3 separate regions of the Homo sapiens genome follow, and all the other regions are linked to region 3. Evidence: fine-mapped expression QTL. A gene starts in region 3. Each other region holds a variant in brackets. All regions are shown on one strand. Distances are between the middles of the regions. Region 1 holds the start of GPR33 (G protein-coupled receptor 33). Region 2 overlaps GPR33 (G protein-coupled receptor 33). Region 3 holds the start of HEATR5A (HEAT repeat containing 5A).

The links. PIP is the estimated chance that this variant, and not a neighbour inherited with it, causes the effect.
Region 1: its variant is the best candidate, but not a certain one, in a credible set for the expression of HEATR5A in whole blood (INTERVAL, PIP 0.76).
Region 2: its variant is the best candidate, but not a certain one, in a credible set for the expression of HEATR5A in whole blood (INTERVAL, PIP 0.63).

Annotation. Positions count from the first base shown.
Region 1 is chr14:31,486,966-31,495,147 of GRCh38, reverse strand. GPR33 (G protein-coupled receptor 33) reads left to right here and starts at 7,109. Exons shown (of 2, transcript NM_001197184.3): 1 at 7,109-7,251. LOC105370438 (a long non-coding RNA gene) reads right to left here and starts at 5,184. Exons shown (of 4, transcript XR_943723.3): 1 at 5,045-5,184. RefSeq lists an enhancer at 1,451-2,650. The variant C/T (reference allele first, on the strand shown) is at 4,354.
Region 2 is chr14:31,476,543-31,484,724 of GRCh38, reverse strand. It overlaps GPR33 (G protein-coupled receptor 33), which reads left to right. Exons shown (of 2, transcript NM_001197184.3): 2 at 754-1,850. The coding sequence starts at 760. The coding sequence ends at 1,761. Among named protein-coding and RNA genes, the nearest start is that of GPR33, 7.4 kb to the left of the region's middle. The variant TTG/G (reference allele first, on the strand shown) is at 3,617.
Region 3 is chr14:31,415,697-31,423,878 of GRCh38, reverse strand. HEATR5A (HEAT repeat containing 5A) reads left to right here and starts at 3,329. Exons shown (of 36, transcript NM_015473.4): 1 at 3,329-3,407. It overlaps HEATR5A-DT (HEATR5A divergent transcript), which reads right to left and starts at 3,121. Exons shown (of 4, transcript NR_110045.1): 1 at 2,902-3,121; 2 at 1,911-2,035. RefSeq lists enhancers at 3,009-3,158, 3,589-3,638 and a silencer at 3,749-3,868.

The DNA of each region.
Region 1 (8,182 bases), 71 kb before region 3:
CTCCTGTATGAGGTGTTTGCCAACTCCTGCTGGGAGGTGTTTCCCAGTCAGGAGGCACAGGAGGCAGGGAGCCACTTGAGGAGGCAGTCTGTCCCTTAGCATAATTCGAGCACTGTGCTGGAAGATCCACTGCTCTCTTCAGAGCTGGCAGGCAGGAACGTTTTAGTCTGCTGAAGCTGCAACCACAGCCACCCCTTCTGTCCCAGGGAGGTGGGAGTTTTATCTTTAAGCCCCTGACTGGGGCTGCTGCCTTTCTTTCAGAGATGCCCTCCCCAGGGAGAAGGAACCTAGAGAGGCAGTCTGGCCACAGCCACTTTGCCACGCTGTGGTGAATTCTGCACAGTCCAAACTTCTGGCAGTTTCCTTAACACTGTGAGGGGAAAACTGCCTACCCAAGCCTCAGTGATGGTGGACGTCCCTCCCCCCACCAAGCTCCATCATCCCCGGTCAACTTCAGACTGCTGTGCTGGCAGCAAGCATATCACGCCAGTGGTTCTTAGCTTACTGGGCTCTGTGGGAGTGTGAACTGCTGAGTGAGACCACTTGGCTCCCTGGCTTCAGCCCCCTTTCCAGAAGAGTGAACAGTTCTGTCTTGCTGGGGTTCCAGGCGCCATTGGGGTATGAAAAAAAACTTCCTGCAGCTAGCTCGGTGTCTGCCAAAACAGCTGCCTAGTTTTGTACTTGAAACCCAGGCCCCTGATGGTGCAGGCATACAAGGGAATCTCCTGGTCTGGGGGTTGCAAAAAGTGTGGGAGAAGCATAGTATCTGGGTCAAACAGCACAGTCCCTCATGGCTTCCCTTGGCTAGGAGAGGGAGGTCCCCAGCCTCTTGCACTTCCCAGGTGAGGCGATGCCCCACCTGCTCTTGCTTGCCCTCTGTGGGCTGCACCCATTGCCTAATCAGTCTGAATGAGATGAACTGGGTACCTCAGTTGGAAATACAGAAGTCACCTGCCTTCTATGTTGGTCTTGCTAGGAGCTGCAGATGGGAGCTGTTCGTATTTGGCCATCTTGATTTGGCTCCTCAAAGAACTTTTTAATTTCCATTTTGATTTCGTTTTTGACCCAATGCTCATTGAGGAGCCGGTTATTTAATTTCCATGTATTTGCATGGTTTTGAAGTTTATTTCTGGTTGATTTTCAGTTTTATTCCACTGTGGTCTGAGAGAGTGCTTGCTATAATTTCAATTTTCTTAAATTTATTGAGTCTTGTTTTATGGCCTATCATATGGCCTATCCTGGAGAAAGTTCCATGCACTGTTGAATGGAATGTGTATTCTGCAGTTGTTGGATGAAATGTTCTGTACATAGCTGTTAAGTCCATTTGTTCCAAGGTATAGTTTAAATCCAATGTTTCCTTGTCAACTTTCTGTCTTGGTAACCTGTCTAGTGCTGTTAGTGGAGTATTGAAGTCCCCCACTGTTATTGTATTGCTGCCTATCTCATTTCTTAAGTCTATTAGTAATTGTTTTATAAATTTGGGAGCTCCATTGTTAGGTGCATATATGTTTAGGATTGTGATATTTTCCTGTTGGACAAGGCCTTTTACCATTATATAACGTCCCTCTTTGTCTCTTTTAACTGATGTTGCTTTAAAGTTTGTTTTTTCTGACATAAGAATAGCTAGCCCTGCTTGCTTTTGGTGTCCATTTGCATGCAATGCCTTTTTCCACCCCTTTACTTAAGTTTATGTGCGTCCTTATGTGTTAGGTGAGTCTCCTGAAGGCAGCAGATGGTTGGTGAGTTCTTTCTTATCCATTCTGTAGTTCTGTATCTTTTAAGTGGAGAGTTTAGGCCATTTGCATTCAATGTTCTATTTTTGTGCTGGTTGGTCTCCGGCTGGAAGGTGGTGCTTTCCAGAGAGCATCAGCTGTGGTAATATGAAGAGGAACCAGCAGTGAGTGGGGTCCTAGAACTCCCAAGAGTATATTCCCTTTGTCTTCAGCTACCAGGGAGGGTAGGAAAGGCCCATGGGGGGGGGCAGGACAAGGCACGTCTGACCTCAGACTCTCCTTGGGTGCTTGGGTGGGTCTTGCTGCAGCTGCTGTGGAGATGGGGGCGAGGTTCCCAGGTCAATGGAGTTGTGTACCTAGAAGGATTATGGCTGCCTCTGCTGAGTCATGCAGGTTGTCAGGGAAGTGGGATAAAGCTGGCAGTCACAGGCCTCACCCAGGTCCCACACAATCCAAAGGGCCATTCTCATTCCCACTGTGCCATCCCTAACAGCCACGAGTCTGTTTCCAGGCAGTGAGCAAGCAGGGCTTGAGAACTTGCCCCAGGCTACCCGCCTCCCAGCTGCAAAAGAAAAGGGTTTGGTTCCTCCCTCACCTGTGGAGTCTGGATGCCGGATTCACACCCTCGCCAGAGTTCTGGCCAGGAGGCTTCTTGCCCAGGTCAAATTGTTACAAAGTTTAGCTGGAGACTTCCTTCTCCCTGTGGCATCCCCCACCCCACTCCCCCACACCTCTGGCTGCCCTCCCAAAAGGATCCCTGTGGGGCCAGGCAGGAAAGGCCTGCTTGGGGACCCAGCAAGTTCCCAGGACCTTTCCTGTTCCTCTGCTGCATAATTCACTTGCCTCTCTAAATTGCCTCAGCTCCTGGTAAGGTGTGAAACTTCCCACAAACTAGACGTTCATTTTCCCTAGTGGGGTTGTGTGTTCTGGAGAGGAGGGTCTCCCTTTCCCACTTCTGCAGTTTGGGCACTCACAGTATTTGGGGTGTCTCCTGGGTCCTGCAGGAGCAGTCTGCTTCCTTCAGAGGGTCTGTGGGTCCTCTTGGGATTCCTGCTTTGTTCCTGCAGTCGTTCTGGAGCTAAAATTCATGATGTGAGCCTCCACACACTGCTCTGTCCGTCCGAGTTAGAGCTGCAATCTAGTCCTGTCTCCCATCTGCCATGATGATCTCACATTTCTATGTTTTAATATTCTGCATAGCACTGTAGTGCTTGCTGATGTTTCTCTTCTTTCTGTGTTTATTTACTGTTTTTGTTTTGTTTTGTTTTTTTGTTTTTGAGATGGAATTTCACTCTTGTTGCCCAGGCTGGAGGGCAACGGCGTGATCTCGGCTCATGGCAACCTCTGCCTCACGGGTTCAAACGATTCTCCTGCCTCAGCCTCTCGAGTAGCTGGGATTACAACACCCAGTTAATTTTTTTTTTTTTTTTGTATTTTTAGTAAAGATGGGGTTTCATTATGTTGGCCAGGCTGGTCTTGAACTCCTGACCTCAGGCGATCCACCCTCCTCAGCCCCCAAAGTGCTGGGATTACAGGCATGAGCCACCGTATCTGCCTCTATTTACTGGTTTAATGCTCACTTCTCCCCACTAGAATGTAAGCTCCATAAGAATACAGCTCTTATCACTGTCTCTCCCCAGTGGCAAGAATAGTGCTTCAAATACAATAAATACTTGGTAAACATTGCATGAATGAAATCTCAGGAACACCTTGTATGTTTTTAAAGATTTCCAGGTGAGTGTGACTTCAGCCAGGCTAGAAAGCACTGGAGTGACACCTGCATTGTCACTGTCACTATGCTGGAATATGGAGGGTGGTGAGAAGTGACCTTGAAAAGTACAGAACCAGGCCAGAAAAATGAAGCATTGCTCTCTTCAGCTTTGCCTTTAAGCATACTGTTTCCAAGACCCAGAATATGCCCTCCCCAACATCCCTAAGCTATTGAGTTCAGGTATCACCTTTAATAACTACAAACATTAAGGGCAATTATTTTGAAGTACTTACTTTATTTTCCCCAGTCTCAAATACTGTCTTACATGCAATAGATACTCAATGAATGTTTCTTGAATTGCATTGCTCAGAGATTTGCTCCAGCCCACTGGACTTGCAGGTGTTCTCTACTACAACTTACATAATATTAATGTTAGCTGAGGAGAGCAAAGATCACCTGGTGGTCAGCAAGCAGACCATCTGGAGGCAAAACTCCTTATCTGAGGAATTCAGAAGTAATTAGATGTCCTTCCTATCTAAAGCTGGCATCTGGTACCAGGCTTCTTTCCCAAAAACTTATAAGTAACTAGAATTTCTATAGATCTTCAGACTGCATGCGTGTCAAAACTCACTGTGCAATTCTTACTGATGTCACAGCACCAAAATGTCTACAAATGTAATCATTTATCATTACCTGTGTGACTAATATGGTCCAAATTATCCTTAAGCTCCTGCTTGAAGGTCCATAAATACCCCTAAGGAAAATCCACTGCAGCTCCCTCAGTCCTCTCTTGCCGAAGCGCCCGCCCATTGCACTCTGCCACAGTGTTCTTTCCATCTAATACAACTTTCCTTTTCAAACCTATACTTTTGTTGGTAAATTCTTTTTACCACCTTCAAGCCGATCACT[C/T]TCTGTGGCAAGGCTCTGACACCCCACCTGGCATTAGCTATCATATATTTAATACATATCATGTGCCAGGTACTGTGCTAAACCCTTACCTATAGGGGTTTGGGCCACAATCCCAAATGTTGAAATCCTAAAAGATCAAAATTCTGAAAAAAAAAATTCTAAAAAAAATTTTTTAAGTTCTTTAAAGGCATTTACATTTTTAAAAGATTTATTTGAGAAACATATTGGCCAGGTGAAGTGGCTCATGCCTATAATCCCAGCATTTCGGGAGGCCAAGGCAGGAGAATCACTTGAGCCCAGGAGTTCAATATCAGCCTGGGCAAGATAGTGAAACCTCGTCTCTACAAAAAATAAAAAAATAGCCCACTGCAGTGGCATACGCCTGTAGTCCCAGTGACTTGGGGAGGCTGAAGTGGGAAGATCACTTAAGCCTGGGAGGTCAAGACTGCAGTCAGTCGTGATCACTCCACCACACTCCAGCCTGGATGATAGAGAGAGACATTGTCTCTTAAAAACAGCATCAACAACAAAACAAAGTAACAAAAACAACAGAACACTTTATAGGCCACTTTACACAATAAAATAGGCAATAATAACATACATATTTTTGCAAGCATAAACAAGTATACTAAGGACAGTCATCCAGGCACAACATTTATAAGCAGACAAATCATATTCATAAATAACTTACACAACTGCAGTCATCTGAAATACTTATAGAATGGGAGTTAGATGAATTTAACTCCTTGGTCTCTTCCAACTCTAAAAATTATATGCATCTATGAGTTACTAGCCTTTCACACATTTGGTTCAGCAGTACCATCTGCTTCTGCATTTCTGCTTCAAACAGTGGTTATATCAAAACAACATAAAACTGTTTCCATTTCCATAAGTTCTTTTTTGAAATCATCTGACTTGATTTGAAATATGAAAAGTGAACTGAAAGAAGCCACATTACTAAAGCCACAGAAGAGAATTACTTCCTCAAATACACTCTGTGTATTTCCTAACATTGTTAATATCATTGGTTTAATCACCTATGGGAGGAAAATACTCACTATTAAGGGTATTTCTGAGGAGAGATATATAATAATCAAATTTTAGGCTATCTAATGGTTGTACTAGCCCTAGTACATATTTGAGGAGAAAAGTTAAGAACTAGTCCCTAATATATTTGTTATTTATGAATTTTAGAAATTATAGAATTGAGAAACAGAGAGTGAGGGGAGAAGAGGAAAAGCCTGGCCCAAATTCCTTTTTTTAATTGAGAAGATAGCATAAGAAGGAGCCCTTAGCTTTTCTTGGTGAAAACCTTTTGTAATTCATTTAACCTCTCTGAGTCTCAGTTTGCTAATCTTCAGAATTAGTGGGTTTGGACCAAATAATATCTCAGATTGCTTCCAAATCTGTGAATTAACCCCAAGGGTATGAAAGCCTGTCAAAATTCCTTTTAAAATCCCTTTTAAAACACAGTAGCAGGTTTGAAAATTTATCCTTAACCTGCAAAGATCAGTTCTTAGGTTGAAGGTCACAGCCACAAATGAATTAAGAACTGAAATTTAAGCCTATTTTTAATAAGGCTACAATCTAGCAGTTAAAGTTTTAAAATTCTAAGTCTAACAAAGACTGGGTAATGGTTTTGATTCCTAAACTCTTGACCACCAACGCTGCACAGTGGTTTTGATGTATTTTCTCCACTGGTAATGAAGAGATGAAGAGGAAAGCAGGCAGGAAAAAAATCAGGACACTGAGGTCAGCACAGAAGGGGATCCAAAAAAAATTTCAGAGATAGATTAGAGAGAAGAACATAGGAAATGTAGAACTCAGTCAGTAATGGTTCATAAATGCATTACCTGTGTTGGAAGATTCCTTATAATGAGATCATCTTCTAGGATGTAGTAACCAATTCTGTTTTTTTCCAACCGTTCTACAACCATCATACAAATGCAGATTGTTCTGCCTGTCAGTCTTCATCAACCCAAACTGAATAATATAAATCTCTGGCCTGTCCTCATAAATTCCATTTTAATGTGAAACTCAGTATTTAAGTTTTTCCTTCTAACTATTTTCTGTCCAGAAAGATTAGATAGCTCATTTCCAGAGTTTATTTTGGTCTCTGCCTGATATTTACCACCTCCTTATGTACCCAACACCATCCATCCATCTGCTAATAAACACCCTAGAGTTGAGGCAGAGTGGGTGCCTGGCGGGATGACCCAATACGAGAAGGGAATTAACACCCGAAACAAGTTTATTAACCTTTTAAATGAAATGACTTAGCTTATGCAATTCATTCTCTCTCTCTCTCTCTCTTTTGAGAGGCAGGGTCTCACTCTGTTGCCCAGGCTGGAGTGTGGTGGCTATTCACCACCATGATCATAGCACACTGCAGCCTCGAACTCCCGGGCTCAAGTGATCCTCCTGCCTCAGCCTCTCCTCCTGAGTAGCTAGTGCTACAGGTGTGCCAGGTGTGCACCACCAGGCCCGGCTATTTTTTTTTTTTATTTTGGTCTCTAACTCCTGGCTTCAAGTTGTCCTCCTGCCTCGGCCTCAGAAAGCACTGGGACTACAGGTGTGAGCCACTGCACTTGGTCACTTACAGATTTTTTTTAATGCCCCTCAAAATGGAGAAATAATTTGAAGAAGTACTCATTTCTCTATACCTCTATAGCAGTAAATTCCACAGAAAAAAAGGAACCAAAAAGAGGAAAAGACCTCACTGAGTATTTAAATAATAGCAAGTTCAAGCTTGGGGAGTAGCATCAGCAAGAAGAAAGACATATGAAATGAAGGCAAAGTGTCACTGATTTTGTTCACTCTGTTCCTAGTGAGAAATTGATGGTGTAGAGTCACTTTGGCCTGCTCAAGACCAATCTGGCATGAAGATACAGGTCTGAGGTAAGATTCTCTGGACTAGTAGGTTTATCCTAGAGCTATCATCCGAATTGACCCTCTAGGCTTATTGCACATTAGCTTCCCGATGCTCCTGTGGCCTTCCCCTGCGCCAGCAGCTCAGTGTTCCCAAGTGGAGGTGGGGTCTTCCTGAAAGCCGCCTGTGGCTGGGCACGGTGGCTCATGCCTGTAATCCCAGCACTTTGGGAGGCTGAGGCGGGCAGATCACAAGGTCAGGAGTTCAAGACCAGCCTGGCCAATATGGTGAAACCCCATCTCTACTAAAAATACAAAATTTAACCAGGCATGGTGGCAGGTGCCTGTAGTCCCAGCTACTGAGGAGGCTGAGGCAGGAGAATCACTTGAACCCAGGAGGCGGAGGTTGCAGTGAGCCAGGATCACGCCATTGCACTCCAGCCTGGGGGACAGAGCAAGACTCCATCTGAAAAAAAAAAAAAAAAAAAAAAAAACTGAGGGGCTTAGCAGGAGAAAAAGTCTCAACAAGTTATCTGAACTTGCAGAGCTGGTAAGTGGTAGAGGTAGGATACAAACCCAGGTCTGTGGGATGCCAGAGTCTGAGATCTGCCCCATTTATTTATTCTCAAGTACTTTAACATCATTTTAAAGGTGTTTAAGGATGAAGAAATCTCCTGGTTATGTGCAATAAATCAGAATTCCTAGGAAACTTTATATGATATTCAGAATCACTACCAACATTGATCAGAAAAGTTTTACTATGATTTTGCCCATGTTCTACATTACTTTCAGATGTCCTTCTAGAGCTCAGATGCACAATTAAAAAAAAATCTTTCCCATAATTCGGGTATCTAGTTTCTCATATGCACACACATAAAGAGACCACACGCATACAACACAAACACACAAACACTACACATACACACATTCCACAGAAAAACATACAAAGACCACAGACACA
Region 2 (8,182 bases), 61 kb before region 3:
TTTTTGTTATTCAAATTCATTTCATTAGCTACTTTTGCCCTCACAAGTCAAATAAGACTCATTCTACATTGCCTTATTCAAGAAGTTTTGCCCATCAAAAAGTGTCAGACTTCTGGTTAACGTCCAAGTAGAAGATTTTTGGCCACACGCAGTGCCTCACACCTGTCATCCCAACACTTTGCGAGGCCAAGCGGGAAAATCACTTGAGTCCAAAAGTTCAAGACCAGGCTGGGCAACATAGTGAGACCCCATCTCTACAAAACAAACAAACAAAAAAATTATCCGGCCTGGTAGTGTGCACCTGTAGTCCCAACTCCTTGGGAGGCTGAGGCAGGAGGAGTCCTTGAGCCCAGGAGGTTGAGGCTGAGTGAGCTGTAATCACTCCACTGCACTCCAGCCTGGGTGACAGAGTGAGATCCTATCTCAGAAAAAAAAAATAGATTTTTAACTACCTAATTATTGAACAATTGTCAAAATGTCCCAACATTTACTTCTTTTCACATTTATTTCATTTCATCCATATATTTCTATTTTTGATGCTCAGATTCATCTGATCTTAATTCCTCATTAAAACATAAAAGTATAGACCTTAGAAAAATATTTGATTTGCAGAAATATTTTGCTTACTGCTGTTAAAATATTATCATTTGGACTAGAAGTATCACTATGTAAAAAATTACTCTTTAAATTTTTACATTTAACCTTTTCTTTTGCTTTTTCTTGTTGTTATTTTCACTGTTTCTCACTCCACAGGTCATTATGGATCTGATCAACTCTACTGATTACCTGATCAATGCCTCTACTTTAGTAAGAAACAGCACTCAGTTTCTAGCTCCTGCATCAAAAATGATTATTGCCCTTTCTTTGTACATTTCATCTATAATTGGTACCATCACCAATGGCCTCTATCTATGGGTGCTAAGATTCAAGATGAAACAGACTGTCAATACTCTCTTATTTTTTCATCTCATTCTCTCTTATTTTATTTCAACAATGATTCTGCCATTTATGGCCACCTCCCAACTTCAAGACAATCACTGGAACTTTGGAACTGCCTTGTGCAAGGTCTTCAATGGCACTTTGTCTCTGGGGATGTTCACCTCTGTTTTCTTCCTTTCGGCCATCGGTCTTGATCGTTACCTTCTCACTCTTCACCCAGTGTGGTCCCAGCAGCACCGAACCCCGCGCTGGGCTTCCAGCATTGTCCTGGGAGTCTGGATTTCAGCCGCTGCCCTCAGCATCCCCTATTTGATTTTCAGAGAGACACATCATGACCGTAAAGGAAAGGTGACTTGCCAAAATAACTATGCTGTGTCTACTAACTGGGAAAGCAAGGAGATGCAAGCATCAAGGCAGTGGATTCATGTGGCCTGTTTCATCAGCCGCTTCTTGCTGGGCTTTCTTCTGCCTTTCTTCATCATCATCTTTTGTTATGAAAGAGTAGCCAGCAAGGTGAAAGAGAGGAGCCTGTTTAAATCCAGCAAGCCCTTCAAAGTTATGATGACTGCCATTATCTCTTTCTTTGTGTGTTGGATGCCCTACCATATACACCAGGGCTTACTTCTCACTACGAACCAGTCACTACTTTTAGAGTTGACTTTGATACTTACAGTGCTAACCACTTCTTTCAATACTATCTTTTCTCCCACACTCTACTTATTTGTTGGGGAGAATTTCAAAAAGGTCTTCAAGAAGTCCATTCTTGCTCTGTTTGAGTCAACATTTAGTGAAGATTCTTCTGTAGAAAGGACACAAACCTAAACTCAGAAGCCTAAATTTAAATTCTAGATTCTTAAGCAAACACGCACTTGGTCAATTATACCAATAGGATATACCTTCTGCTTTTGTATGCTATAGTCCCTATATTAGAGAGATAACTAGGCTGTACTATAGTTAGATTTCTGAGCAATAAAAGGGCTGCAAGAAAACAAGCAATTTGCAAGATCATGCTGCAAATGTGATTCTTTTCTTTTCTTTTCTTTTCTTTGAGGCAGAGTCTCACTCTGTCGTCCAGGCTGGAGTTCAGTGTGCAATCTAGGTTCACTGCAAACTCCACCTCCCAGGTTCAAGTGATTCTTATGCCTCAGCCTCCCAAGTAGCTGGGACTACAGGTGTACACCACCATGCCCAGCTAATTTTTTTATTTTTTATTTTATTTTTTTTATGAGAAGGAGTTTCGCTCTGTCACCCAGGCTAGAGTGCAGTGGTGCGATCTCGGCTTACTGCAAGCTCCACCTTCCGGATTCAAGCCATTCTCCTGCCTCGGGCACCTGAGTAGCTGAGACTACAGGCACCTGCCACCACGCCTGGCTAATTTTTTGTATTTTAAGTAGAGACAAGGTTTCACCATGTTAGCCAGGATGGTCTCGATCTCCTGACCTCGTGATCTGCCCACCTCGGCCTCCAAAACTGCTGGGATTACAGGCGTGAGCCACCACACCCAGCCATGCCCAGCTAATTATATTTTTAGTAGAGATGGGATTTTGCCCATATTGGCCCGTCTGGTCCCAAACTCCTGGTGCCAAGTGATCCGCCTGCCTCAACCTCCCAAAGTGTTGGGGTTATAGGCATGAGCCACTGTGCTGGACCTATGATTATTTCGACTCATTTTTTATTGTGGAAAAATATGTGTAACATAAGATTTACCATTTTCACCATTTTTAGTGAACATTTCAGTGGCATTAATTATATTCACGAAATTGTACAACCATCACCACCATCTATTTCCAAAATTTTTCATCATTCCAAGGACAAACTCTGTGCCCATTAAGTAGTAACTCCCTATTCCTCCTCCCCCTGGTCCCTAATAATCTCCAGTCTACTTTCTGTCTCTATGAATTTGCCTATTCTAGATGTTTCATATATGTGAAATTATACAGTATTTACCCTTTTGTGTCTGACTTACTTCACTCAGCAAAATGTTTTCAAGGTTCATCTGTGTTGTTGCAGTATCAGAACTTCATTCTCTTTTTACAGCTGAATTATATTTTATTGTATGTATATAACATAATTTTTAAATCCAGCCATCTGTTGTGTTGTTTCCACCTTTTGACTATTGTCAATAAAGCTACTATTATTGTGAATAAAGCTACTATTAACATTTGTATATAAGTATTTGTGTCAGTCCTTGTTTTCAATTATTGTAGGTATATACCTAAGAGTGGAATTACCGGTTCAAATGGTAATTTTATGTTTAACTTTTTGAGAAATCATAAAGCTTTTCAATTTGCACCATGTTACATTCCCACCAGCAATGTATAAACGTTTTAGTTTCCCCACATCTGTGCCAACACTTGTTATTTTCCTTTTTTTAATTATAGTGTAGTCATTCTGGTAGGTTGAATCAATCTTCTTGCCTCAGCCTCTGGAGTACCTGGGACTACAGGCACACACCACCATGTCCAGCTAAAACTTTTGATTTTTGAAGCTAGGAATATCAGTTGCCAAATTGATCAATAGTATCCAAGGATTTGAATTTTCTGTCACAGAATCTTCTGACAGACATTTGGACAGAGCTCCCTCATTATTTAGTAACATCTAAATTATTTAACTGGTATGAATAAAACTTAACATGGAAGTGACAAGGCACTTATCTCTTTTTTTTTTTTTTTTTTTT[TTG/G]AGACGGAGTCTCGCTCTGTTGCCCAGGCTGGAGTGCAGTGGCATGATCTCGGCTCACTGCAAGCTCCGTCTCCCGGGTTCACGCCATTCTCCTGCCTCAGCCTCTCGAGTAGCTGGGACTACAGGCGCCCATCACCATACCTGGCTAATTTTTTTGTATTTTTAGTAGAGACGGGGTTTCACCATGTTAGCCAGGATGGTCTTGATCTTCTGACCTCGTGATCCGCCCACCTTGGCCTCCCAAAGTACTGGAATTACAGGCATGAGCCACCGCGCCCGGCCACAAGGCACTCATCTTGTTACATCCATGTTAAAGCATAAAGACACTTCTACTTTAGTGTTTTAATTATTAAGGCATCTTAACTGTCTTTTTCTAATATTTATAGAGTAAGCTATCTCCAAAATTTGGGGCTAAAATAATGTTCAAGAATCTGCCTGTTGTCATAGACTTAATTTTATAAATGCAATAACAATATTAATTTGTGTTCTCTGATTTTCAGGTTATGTTTCAAGCTTTGTGTACTAAGTGACTGCACCTAAGTTATGTAGAACCACATAATATCACTCACCTATTGTCTTTGTATTTAGTTAATTCTATCAATCAATCAATACATGTCAATCAATAGGTAGTCCTGTCAATTCTAAATCAACTGAACTATCTAGTTAGTTCAACTGATACAACATGGAGATATTTGGGTCACATCCCACACTCAGTCCCTGAATACACCAGCATGCTTTGTACAAAGCATTCCAAACCGCAAGCATATAGCCTACGCAGAAATCCCCAAAACGTATGATATGAATTACAAGGAGATACAGAAAGAAGAAAATTAATCTTCATGACTAACTTTTTATAGAGAAAGTAACAGTAGTTTGGTGTCCTAGAAATCCTGCTAATTGACGTGGTATCAGGGCTCCCCTGGGCAATTGGGGGCTTGGTCTCTCTTACTTGGAATGACAAAAGCTTTGGGTAGATGAAAACTTTAATTGCTGACCCTATTTCAAGGTTTTGAAGCTTGAACAGTTTTTTTTTTCTTTTTCGGAAAGGGAGATATGAATTGATGACCAGGCTGTGGCTCCGACTACAGCTGCAATGAGAAATGGATGGTGCTTTTTTCCACCCCACACTATCCCAGGTCCTGACAAGCCCACTGAAGTTTTAGTTTTATGATGCAGGATTTAAGAAAGAAAATTATTGAATGCAACATAGGATTCTTTGAAACAAGATTTGGATTTTGGAAATCTAGCAGCTACAGAGAGTGCCTTTTGTCTACCTCCTCAGGCCTGCTACAATAATAAACAAGGAACATGCCCTGGAAAGCGTGGATTTTGTGGTATTTGTAAGCCATATGTTGTCATTCCTTACAGCTATCTATGTACGCTTTAAATTGTCTTTTTCATGAGACCTAGGTCAGGGCTTTTTGAAGTATTTTGTTCCATCTTTCTATAAATTGTAAACAACTCAGGGACAGAAAGAATTCTATCAACTATAGCATTTCATTTCTATAATATTATACACAATTGATAATAAAAGATATTTAATAAAAGTTGAGTTTGCACAATTACAACATGTAAAGCACTGTATAAATATAAGATATTAAGAGTTTTTTTAAAGTCAATTTAAATGTAAGAAAATAGGGTATAATTAAGAAAATTATTCCCAAATGCATTTTTAACCTCACAGAAAACTGGTTAATTTTTTAAAAATCTACTCATTATAATTGCGTTGATCTCATCAACCTCCTCACTATTTTGAATTCTCAGGACTCAAAAGGTTTATAAACAAAGAGTTGGTGGTTTTGCTCTGTGGAACTGGTACAAAGAGACACTGTTTCAAAACAATGTGCCTGTCAGCACTCGATTATATAAAGCAGCTTCACTATATCAGTATCAAACTGGTTTAAGAACAAAATACAAGGATGATTAGAGATGCATTTTAAATGCCAGTGTAAGTTCTTTCCTCAAGAAGTAGCTCTTTGTTTTGATGAGAAGGATGCTCAGATGCTAACGTGTGTGAGAGGGGTTAGGGTATAAGATAGAATGCTGTGTACAACACAAATCTGATTCCATATCCCTGAGAAATTAGGGGAAACAATCATTTACCAGTATAGTATATGTACCTGGCACTGTGATAGGCACTGGGGAAACAAGAGTGAATCTGACACAATCCCTGTCCTAAAGAAGCTTGAAGTCTAGTGCAGTGGTTCTGAATTTGGCTCCACATTGTAATCATCTGGGATACTTTTTTAAAATGTCAGTTTCAAGGCCTTATCCAAACCAATTAAAACTAAAATCTCTAGAAGCAGGACGCAGGAACCAGTATCTTTGTTTGTTTGTTTGTTTGTTTCTTGAAACAGTCTCACTGTCACCCAGGCTGAGGTGCATTGACATGATCTTGGCTCACTGCAACCTCTGCCTCCTGGGTTCAAGCAATTCTCGTGCCTCAGCCTCCATAGTAGCTGGGATTACAGGCGTGTGCTGCCACGCCCAGCTAATTTTTGTATTTTTAGTAGAGACAGGCTTTTGTCATGTTGGCCAGGCTGGTCTCGAACTCCTGACCTCAAGCAATCCACCCACATTGGCCTCCCAAAATGCTGGGACTACGGTGTGATCCACCGTACCCGGCCAGTATATTTTTTATTCTCAGATTAAGTCTAAAGTACAATTAGGTTAGAAAACTCCAGTTTAGTAGGAAAGAAAAAGGAGTAAAATGGTAATTCCTGCCTTCACCAGTCAAAAAAGTTTTCCTGGATAAGGGCCTGAGTCCTGCAGAACAGTGTTAGGCATATAAAGAAGAGGAGGATAGTTCCTTCAAAGAGAGGAAGCAGAATGTGTAAGAGCCCTGGAGGGAAAGAGAAGACATTGCTATAAAGCAGCACTACCCAAACCTCAATATGCAAATGAATCACCTAATAATCTTGTTAAATGTTGATTTGATTCAGTAAACCTGGAGTAAATCTAACTTCAGTAAGTCAGATTCTGCATTTCTCTTTTTTTTTTTTTTGAGACAGAGTCTTGCTCTGTCGCCCAGGCTGGAGGGCAGTGGTGTGATCTAGGCTCACTGCAAGCTCCGCCTCCCAGGTTCAAGCAATTTTCTGCCTCAGCCTCCCAGGTAGCTGGGATTACAGGTGCCTGCCACCACACCCGGCTAATTTTTGTATTTTTAGTAGAGACGGGGTTTCACCATCTTGGCCAGGCTGGTCTTGAATTCCAGACCTCATGACCCACCTGCCTCAGCCTCCCAAAGTGCTGGGATTACAGGCGTGAGCCACCACTCCAGGCCAGATTCTGCATGTCTTTTTTTTTTCTTTTTCTGAGACCGAGTCTTGCTATGTTACCCAGACTGGAGTGCAGTGGCGTGATCTCGGCTCACTGCAAGCTCCGCCTCCTGGGCTCACGCCATTCTCCTGCCTCAGCCTCCCGAGTAGGTGGGACTACAGGCACCCGCCACCACGCCCAGCTAATTTTTTGTATTTTTAGTAGAGACGGGCTTTCACCCAGGATGATCTCGATTTCCTGACCTCCTGATCTGCCCGCCTCGGCCTCCCAAAGTGCTGAGATTACAGGCGTGAGCCACTGCACCCGGCCCAGATTCTGCATTTCTAACAGGATCCCAAGGGATCCTGTTGCTGCTGGTCCAGCACAAGCCAAAAAACATAATTGCAACATTAAGTGTGAGAAGCAGGCTGGAAACATGAGCTGGAAAAGTCAACCAGGACTAGATCCTGAGAGCCTATAAGAAGGAATTTGGACTTGATCCTAGACTTTATCTTGAGGGCATTTGGAAGCCACTGAAAGACCTTAAACCTAAGAGTGATAGGTTGAGATTTGCATTTTAGAAAGATAGATTGCTCTGTCTACTACAGTAGAGAGGTCAAAACTAGAGGTGGGTGGCCAAATAGGACAGTGCCAAAGTAATCTAAGTAACAGATGATGTGGCCTACTAAAAAAGTGTAAGTAAGGATCAAGAAAAGTCGAGTTCTGTAAATTCTGTTGGTTGAAGGGGAAGTTGAGGACAATTCCTCTGTCAATTAGTGTTCTTTGTTGCAAACAGTAGATTTCATTCTGGCTGATTTAAGCAAAAACTGATTTATTAAAAGACATTAAGTAACTCACAGAATTATTAGGATAGTTGGAGAAACATTCAAGGAGCAGCTCTCAGAAACCATGCCCAAAACATGCCACAAAACTACCCAAATCAGGAATTTGTCACTGGTGTTCCGTATTTCAGTAAATGATACCAAATGTTGCTGCTGCTGCTGTTGAGCCCAAAATATCAGCAATTTGGCTTTACTAAAACTGCTACTGCCGCTGATACCATTTCTGCATTAGGTCTTGAACCACTCTGTGCCTGAAAGCTCTGACAACAGGACAGAAATCTCATGCAGAGCTTGCTTATTCACATTGCTCACTTCCAAATTTAGTCTTGCACAAGGATATCTAGTCAGCATGCCTGTATCCTAGCTGCAAATGAGGCTGGGGAATTTAAGTTCTGATTTCTACATGAGTGAGAAGGGGTTACTCAAAATGTAGGAATTTCCCCAAATATAAAAGCCATTCAAAA
Region 3 (8,182 bases):
ACACACTATATATGTGATTCATGTTTTAGGTACTGTAAGTAATATATATAACAAATATATATGATATATAACATATATAGTGTGTGTATATATAGGGTTTTATAAAAATTAATATATAATGAATATATGAGATATATAACTAATCTATATATTGAATGTATGTATGTGTATATAGGGTGCTGTAAAGAATATATAACTAATATATATGATTATATATAGTGTATGTCTAATCTATATAAAGTGAGGTAAGGGGGATGCTTGGCAAGGGATGTTTGGGTCTGAGCATTGTCGGCAGGGTTTATGGGCTAGGCATGATCACAGGGTGTGGGAGTGATGGTAAGGAAAGAAAGATGAGAGAGGGGCTTGAGATGGCTAATTTGGGGCTTTCAGAACCTTAGTGGGGTAAGGGCAGTATCCTCCAAAGGAATAGATGGCAACTATGGATGATTGCTCACACATAGCAGGGTTGTTCAAATAAGTAAATATCTCAAGGATAATGGGAGCCAGGCTTCTCTCTGTAGGAGAAAGTAGTTATAAATGTGGAAGGGCAAAAACTAGAATGAACTGTATGATGCTGGATTGGAGGTTTTACTGTGAACACATGATTTTTCAATATATATTGTTAGACAAAGAAATATAACTGTAAATGTGTGTGTAAGGATACATATAAAGATGTGCTGTATATGTGTATGAATGTATAAATATTCCCTAACTGCATCCACTCAGACAGCCTGGGCTATGGATATCTCAATAGCAGTGAGCATACCTAGTGCTAAATACCATTCTCCGCTATAAGGAATCAGGGCTCCTGAATAAATGATTACATCCAAGGCTGGAGCAGGATGAGTATGAAACATCTAATTGCCCTAGTAACTAGGGGAGTGCTGAAAGAATGATGGGGATGTGTCAAAAGGCCTCAGAATGGTAACCTGTTAATGTTGAATCTGGATTATGTGTATATGGTATTTAAAGCTCTTTTAATTATTCTGTATTAAAAAATATTTTACAATAAAATGTTTACAGAATCTAAGGCTGGGGCCAGGCGCGGTGGCTCATGCCTGTAATCTCAGCACTTTGGGAGGCCGAGGCGGGCTGATCATGAGGTCAGGAGTTTGAGACCAGCCTGAGCAACACAGTGAAACCCCGTCTCTACTAAAAATACAAAAATTTGCCAGGTATGGTGGCACACGCCTGTAATCCCAGCTACTCAGGAGCTGAGGCCAGTGAATTGCTTGAACCCGGGAGGCGGAGGCTGCAGTGAGCCAAGATCACACCACTGCACTCCAGCCTGGGTGACAGAGCGAGACTCCGTCTCAAAAAAAAAAAAAAAAAAGAGAGAGAGAATTTAAGGCTGGGTACAGTGGGTCACACCTGTAATCCCAGCACTTTGGGAGGCTGAGGCGGGTGGATCGCTTGGGCCCAGGAGTTCGAGACCAGCCTGGGCAAAATGGTGAAACCCTGTCTCTACAAAAACAAAAACAAACAAACAAAATTAGCCAGGCACAGTGGCACACCCATTGTCCCTGCTACTTGAGTGGCTGAGGTGGGAGAATCACCTGAGCCTAGGAGGTTGAGCCTGCAGTGAGCTGTGATCAGACTACTGCACTCCAGCCTGGGTGACAGAGTGAGACCTTGTCTTCTTGTCTCAAAAAAAAAAAAATTACACACACACACACACACACACAACACAGAAGCTAGAATGAATATGAGACCTTGTCTTCTTGTCTTAAAAAAAAATTGAACACACACACACACACACACACACACACACACACACATATCACAGAAGATAGAATGAATGGGGCCCCTACCCACCAAACTTGGGATAATTGAGCATCAAAATAAATAATGATAGAGACAGAATATTGGCTGGTGTGGTGGTGTGCATGCCTGCAGTCTCAGCTACTTACCTGGGAGGCTGAGGCAGAAGGATCACATGAGCCCAGAAGTTCAAGGCTGTAGTGTGCACCATGATTGCATTATCGACCTGTGAATAGCCACTGCACTCCGGCCTGGGCAACAAAGGAGGCCCTGTCTCAAGAAAAAAAAAAAAAAAAAGAGAGAGAGAAAAGAGAGAAAGAAACGGATTATAAGTCATTTAACAAAATAGAAACCTCTGGATCCATACTAATTAATATAAATACATTAACTGAAGATTTGATGAGAAACAAGATATTTACAAATATCTTGAAAGGAGAGTTTCAGAGTCTCCCTCACAAAATACTTATTAATTTACAAAGGGGGGAAAAAAGTAACCACACTGGACAAGCCTAACAGACATCACCTTATTAAAGTAAACATCTGTAATGAGAGAAGTTAAAATCGTGCCACCTGATAGGGTGCCATGAGAAGAAAGCAGCAACACTTCTAGAGTCCTGTCATACCTAGCTAAATGTAATCATGAGTAAATATCAGACAGACCCAAAATGAAGGCCATTCTACAAAAATAACTGGCCAGGAATCTTTAACAGCGTCAAGAATATGAAAGGCAAGGCAAGACTGAGAGTTCCAGTTTGAAGAGTAGGAAAGATACATGATAAGTAAATACAATGCCTGATTCTGAACGGAATCTTTTACCATAAACAATATTATTGGGACAATTGGTAAAACGCCGAGTTATGTAAATGTTTTGATTTTGATGGTTATATTGTGATTATGTAGAAGGTGCTTAGGGACAATGTGGCATGGTGTCAGCAATTTAAATCTCAATTCAGGGAAAAAAAGTTCTTTGTACTATACTTGCAACCTTTTTGTAAGCTGGAGATAGATTCAAAATGAAACTTGAAAAATGACATTTAAAACGCTGAGTGTAGTGGGAAAACGCACATGACTCAAGGTAAGAGGCTATTAGTCTCAGTTCTGCCATTGACTTAGTATGTGACCTTGAGCAAGTCACTTTACCTCAGTCCTCACAGTCAAGGCTCTCTAGGGTCCCTTCCACGTCTAACATCTACCCCCACAGCACTGGCCCCGCCTGAATTTCTCCAGGCCCTTTAGGTGTCCCAGAGCTGCACCCAAAGACTCTGGCTTACGATAAAAACAGACAAAAATAGTTGTGGCCGGAATCTCCGGACTGAAAAACCGCTGTCCTAATCCTAACTTGGGCCGCAGTCTCCATCGCTCTTTCGACGGTGAAGCAGTCACGCCTGCCAGAGTGGGCGCTCGATGGCTCGGCGGCCAGCTGGCGGGGCCTTGGACCAGCGGCCCGGCGCAGGGCGCGCTCCCAATCGCTAGCTCCCGCGGTGCTCGCCGCTGAGAGCTTTCCGGCCACGCCCCACGCGCGCCCCGCCCACCTCAATGCCTCGCTGTCGCCGCCGCCGGCAATTCCAGACTCTGCTAGGGTTAGCAGAGCAGCCGGTAACGTTGCTGGACCGGGACGCACGCTCAGCTGAGGAGGACCCCCAAAGGCAGGCAGTCGGGGATCCAGGGAGCGGGGACACCTCCGGGCGCGAGGGGGCTGTGTCTGGGCTGCCTGTTGGCTGGGAAGGAGAACGCACCAGGGCCGCTGTATGAGTTGAGCGCTCGGGGATCCCGAGGGTGGTCGCGGCAGCAATGTGATCGCGAAAGAAGCCGGTGGGAGAACCGGTCGAGGGGCTAGGTGTCTTGACCCTAAGGGCTGGAGTCCGCCGAGAAGGGGCTGACTGGGGCACAGGGTCGGCTGATAAACAGCGTGGTCCGTTCTTCCTCCTGGACTACGGGAAAGTCTGGCTTCACCTGTGCACAACAGGTAGGCGTGGACTCTGCCCGCCAGCGGGAGCCGGGGTTGCCGGGCGTGTGGGGAAGGTCAGCAAGTCGGAGCCCGCCTCGCCAACTCGCCGCTCCCGGGACCCGCCCTGCGGCGTCCGCTGCGCCAGTGGTCAGCCAGGAGCCGGGCCCCGGCCCGGCCTTCGGGCGAGCTTCCTCAGAGGCCCGTTCGTTTTCTGCAGGAACCCTCAAAGAGAGTTCCCAGAAGGGAGCAGTGGAGAGTGTGGATATTTGCTTTCTAACTGTTGCAGTTCTCTCCAGGAAAGAAAGCTTTTCCTTTGGTGGCATTTGCTTAGTGTGAGGAAACATTTTCTTTCACCCTACTCTCGGCCAACGCGGCGTTATTTCAAGTGATTATAAAGTCTTTAGAAACTTTATAAAGCGTTTTATAGTGTTTATTTATCACAGTAATGGATACCTCTGGCAAGTTGGGATAATTTTCTTGACTGTCAAGTCAGATAATAATAAAATGGCTTGAGCTCCTACATTAAAGGTCATAGTTATCCATTGTTTTTATGTGCATTCATTTATTGAACAAATATGCAGCACTTTTTTGGGGCTAGGCGCCCTTAAGGAATTTACAGCCTGAAAGATATTAGAAGTTTAAGGAGGAAAAAAAGGGGCCCACAAGTACACTTAAGAACTTCCAGAGAAAATACTCCCAGTGAAATTACTTAAGCTGTAGGGAAAGCAGAAGTGTGGTTAGAATTGAGCATTAGTTGGATGGGGAGAGGAGAATTTTGTTTAATTTTCCAAACATTTTAGAAAGTATGTCTTTGAGAAAGTAATTTTAGATAAAGTATCGAAGCCGAGATTTGTGTTACATTTTAATGCCATTGACTTTTTTTTTTTCTTCACTGATAAGCAGGCAGGATTTATAATATAAGAATAGTGACAGTTGGAGAATACTGTAGTATGGATTTGTTGTGCCTTGGAATGCAGTTGTTTTACCTAGATGACTATAGAATAGGAGAATAAGAAAAGACTCCTCACCTGAAAGTCAGGAGACCTGAATTCTAGCTTAAGTTCCCTCCACTATTTATGGATGTTAGATTAGGTCACTTTTTTAGTATTATTCATTATTGTATCTGACTTTAGTCACAGAAAATACATGACTCCAAAGTACCTTTTTAATTCTTAAATTATTAATTAAAATTAACTACATTAAACTAATGAATATATTATCTACAGAAAAAAATTATTTTTTTACTTGTCTTTAACCAATACACTTACCTTTCTTCTTGCTTTGTTTCAAAAAGGTTGAGGTAGTTTATAATAGTCTTTCTTAACTATGAATAACATAAGGGTTAAATTCTGAATTTTTTAAATTCTAAAATTATTCTGAATTAAGCGTTTAATGACATCTGCATTTTTTTAAAAAGCTCTATTGAGTCTTGTGTGGTTCATTAATTATCCCATAGTATAATTGAAGAGTTTGAACAATCCTTTAATGAGACCACAGTCCTCATATAAATAACACTTCTGCTTTTTCAGGAGACATTGAGAAACTGTTATTAAATCTCATTTGAGAAATCAATTAACTGGGGCCAAAAAACTTAGTAAAGACTTGCCTGTGTCACTTAATTAGATCCCTTGTCTAGTTCTAGTGTTAAATTTTTGAATTAAAATAGTGCTCAGCAATCTACAGCCTGTGGGTCAAATCTGCTCTGCTGGCAGTTTTATAAAAGTTTTATTGAACACAACAATGCTCCTTCGTTATGGCTGTGCATGTTTTGTTTTTGAGTAGTTGTGATAGAGACCGTATGGCTCCCAAAGCCTAGAGTATTGTCTGGTCCTTTACAGAAAAAAATTAGTGGACCCCTGAACTAGAGCTCTTAAGTGCTTAATCACTAAATCTTTTGTAGGAGGAAATAGATTAAATTCAGTTTTAATTCTTCTGTTTGTTTGTTTGTTTTTGTTTTTATCGAGACAGGGTCTGGCTCTGTAGCCCAGGCTGGAGTGCAGTGGCGCGATCTTGGCTCACTTGCAAGCTCTACCTCCCCGGTGCAAGTGATTCTCCTGCCTTAGCCTCCCGAGTAGCTGGGAGTACAGGCATGCACCACCACGCCAGGCTAATTTTTGTATTTTTAGTAGAGACGGGATTTCACCATGTTGGCCAAGCTGGTCTCCAACTCCTGATCTCAGGTGATCCGCCCGCCTCGGCCTCCCAAAGTGCTGGGATATTACAGTCATGAGCCACTGCGCCCAGCCTCACTTTTACTTATTAATCTTGGTTTTTCATTATAATGTCAGGTAATTGTAGGACTCATAAATGCTTCTGGATCTGCAGTGTGTAATGATAGAGGAAGGGCATGGTTTTTCTGCTACATTTACCTAGTGTAAAGTTTTATAATTTTGGCAACTCTCTCCTTTTTTTTTTTTTTTGAGATGGAGTCTCGCTCTGTCCCCCAGGCTGGAGTGCAGTAGCGCCATCTAGGCTCACTGCAACCTGCGCCTCCTGGGTTCAAGCGATTCTCCTGCCTCAGCCTCCGGAGTAGCTGGGATTATAGGCGCGTGCCACCACGCCCATCTAATTTTTTTTTCTTTTTTTGAGACAGAGTCTTGTTCTGTCACCCAGGCTAGAGTGCAGTGGCGCGATCTGGGCTGCTGCAAGCTCCGCCTCCCGGGTTCACGCCATTCTCCTGCCTCAGCCTCCCGAGTAGCTGGGATTACAGGTGCTAGCCACCACGCCCGGCTAATTTTTTTTGTTTTGTTTTTTGCTTTTGTTTTTGTTTTTTAGTAGAGATAGGGTTTCACCGTGTTAGCCAGGATGGCCTCCCATCTTCTGACCTCGTGATCCGCGTACCTCGGCCTCCCAAAGTGCTGAGATTACAGGCTTGAGCCACCGCCCCGGCCAACTCTAGCCTTTTGTAAGTCTAGGGAAGAGGAAGAGTTTTTATATTTTCTCTAGCAACTGTGTTAAGTTTTAATTTAGATCTGGTATGGGAAATTTTTTTCGTTTAGTAAACTTCTCTCTTTTTACTATGCCATTCATAGGGTTTATCATAAGCAGCAGTAAGGTACCTTTACTCAAAGCAGGGTTTTTTTTGTTTTATTTATTTGTTTATTTTTATTTTATTTTATTTTTTGAGACAGAGTCATTGGAGTGTACTCAAGCGATCCTTCTACCTCAGCCTCTGAGTAGCAGGGACAACAGGCACATGCCACCATGCCCAGCTAATATTTTGTATTTTTTGTAGAGAGGCGGTTTTGCTATGTCGCCCAGGCTGTTCTCGAACTCCTGGGCTCAAGGAATCCCCTCATCTCGGCCTCCCAGAGTGCTGGAATTACAGGTGGGAGCCACCACATCTGGCCTCAAAAGAGTTTTTTAAACAGGAATCTAGTGATTCCTAGTTGGTCATAAGGTCAGACAGAATATTATTGGAAGTGTAACTGAACAAGAAATCAGACATATTTACAGTGAGAACCAAATGGAAAGTTAGCACTCTTTAAACAGATACCTAACAGATTGAAACAGGAGTATATATCCTGAATCATGCTTGGGCTTTTTTTTCTTTTTTTTTTAATGGTAACAACACAAAATATTTATTTCTAGAAAAGAAGCATAATATGGCCATATTAAAGCACTATATTAATTATTTGCCTAAGAAATTGGAGCTGGTTATGTGACAAAAATGAAGGAAATCTTGAAGAAGGTGATAATTTTAAATATTTAAAGCTGTACATATACTTTTGCCAATCTTAAAACCATCGACCAGATGCGGTGGCTCATGCCTGCAATCCTGGCACTTTGGGAGGCCAAGGCGGGCAGATCACTTGAGGTCAGGGGTTTGAGATCAGCCTGGCCAACAGGGTGAAACCCCGTCTCTACTAAAAATACAAAAAAAAAATTAGCCGGGCGTGGTGGCCGGTGCCTGTAATCCCAGCTACTCAGGAGGCTGAGGCAGATAATTGCTTAAACTCGAGAGGTGGAGGTTGCAGTGAGCCGAGATCGTACCACTGCACTGCAGCCTAGGCGACAGAGCGAGACTCCATCTCAAAAAACAAAAACAAAAATTAGCCAGGCATGGTGGTACACGCCTGGAGTCCCAGCTATTCAGGAGGCTGAGGTGGGAGAATCGTTTGAACCCATGAGGTAGAGGTTGCAGCGAGCTGAGATCCTGCCACTGCACTCCAGCCTGGGCGACAGATTGAGATCCTGTCTCAAAAAAAAAGAAAAGGAAAAAAAAAAACCCATAGTATGGTGCTAATTTTACTAAATTGTTGTTTTATGTGTGTAATGTATTTTTTCAGTAACTTAGTTGTCCTGTATTGCCCAAGTAATGCTTCTTAATGGGTAAATATACAATAGCATTTATATACTTTTCTGTTGCATTTGGAGGTTTCTACATGTTGAATATATGCATATTTGTGTGTCTGTACACAAAATAATACCTTACTCGAAACAAGTAATAACACCTTTTTTATGTAAATAAAA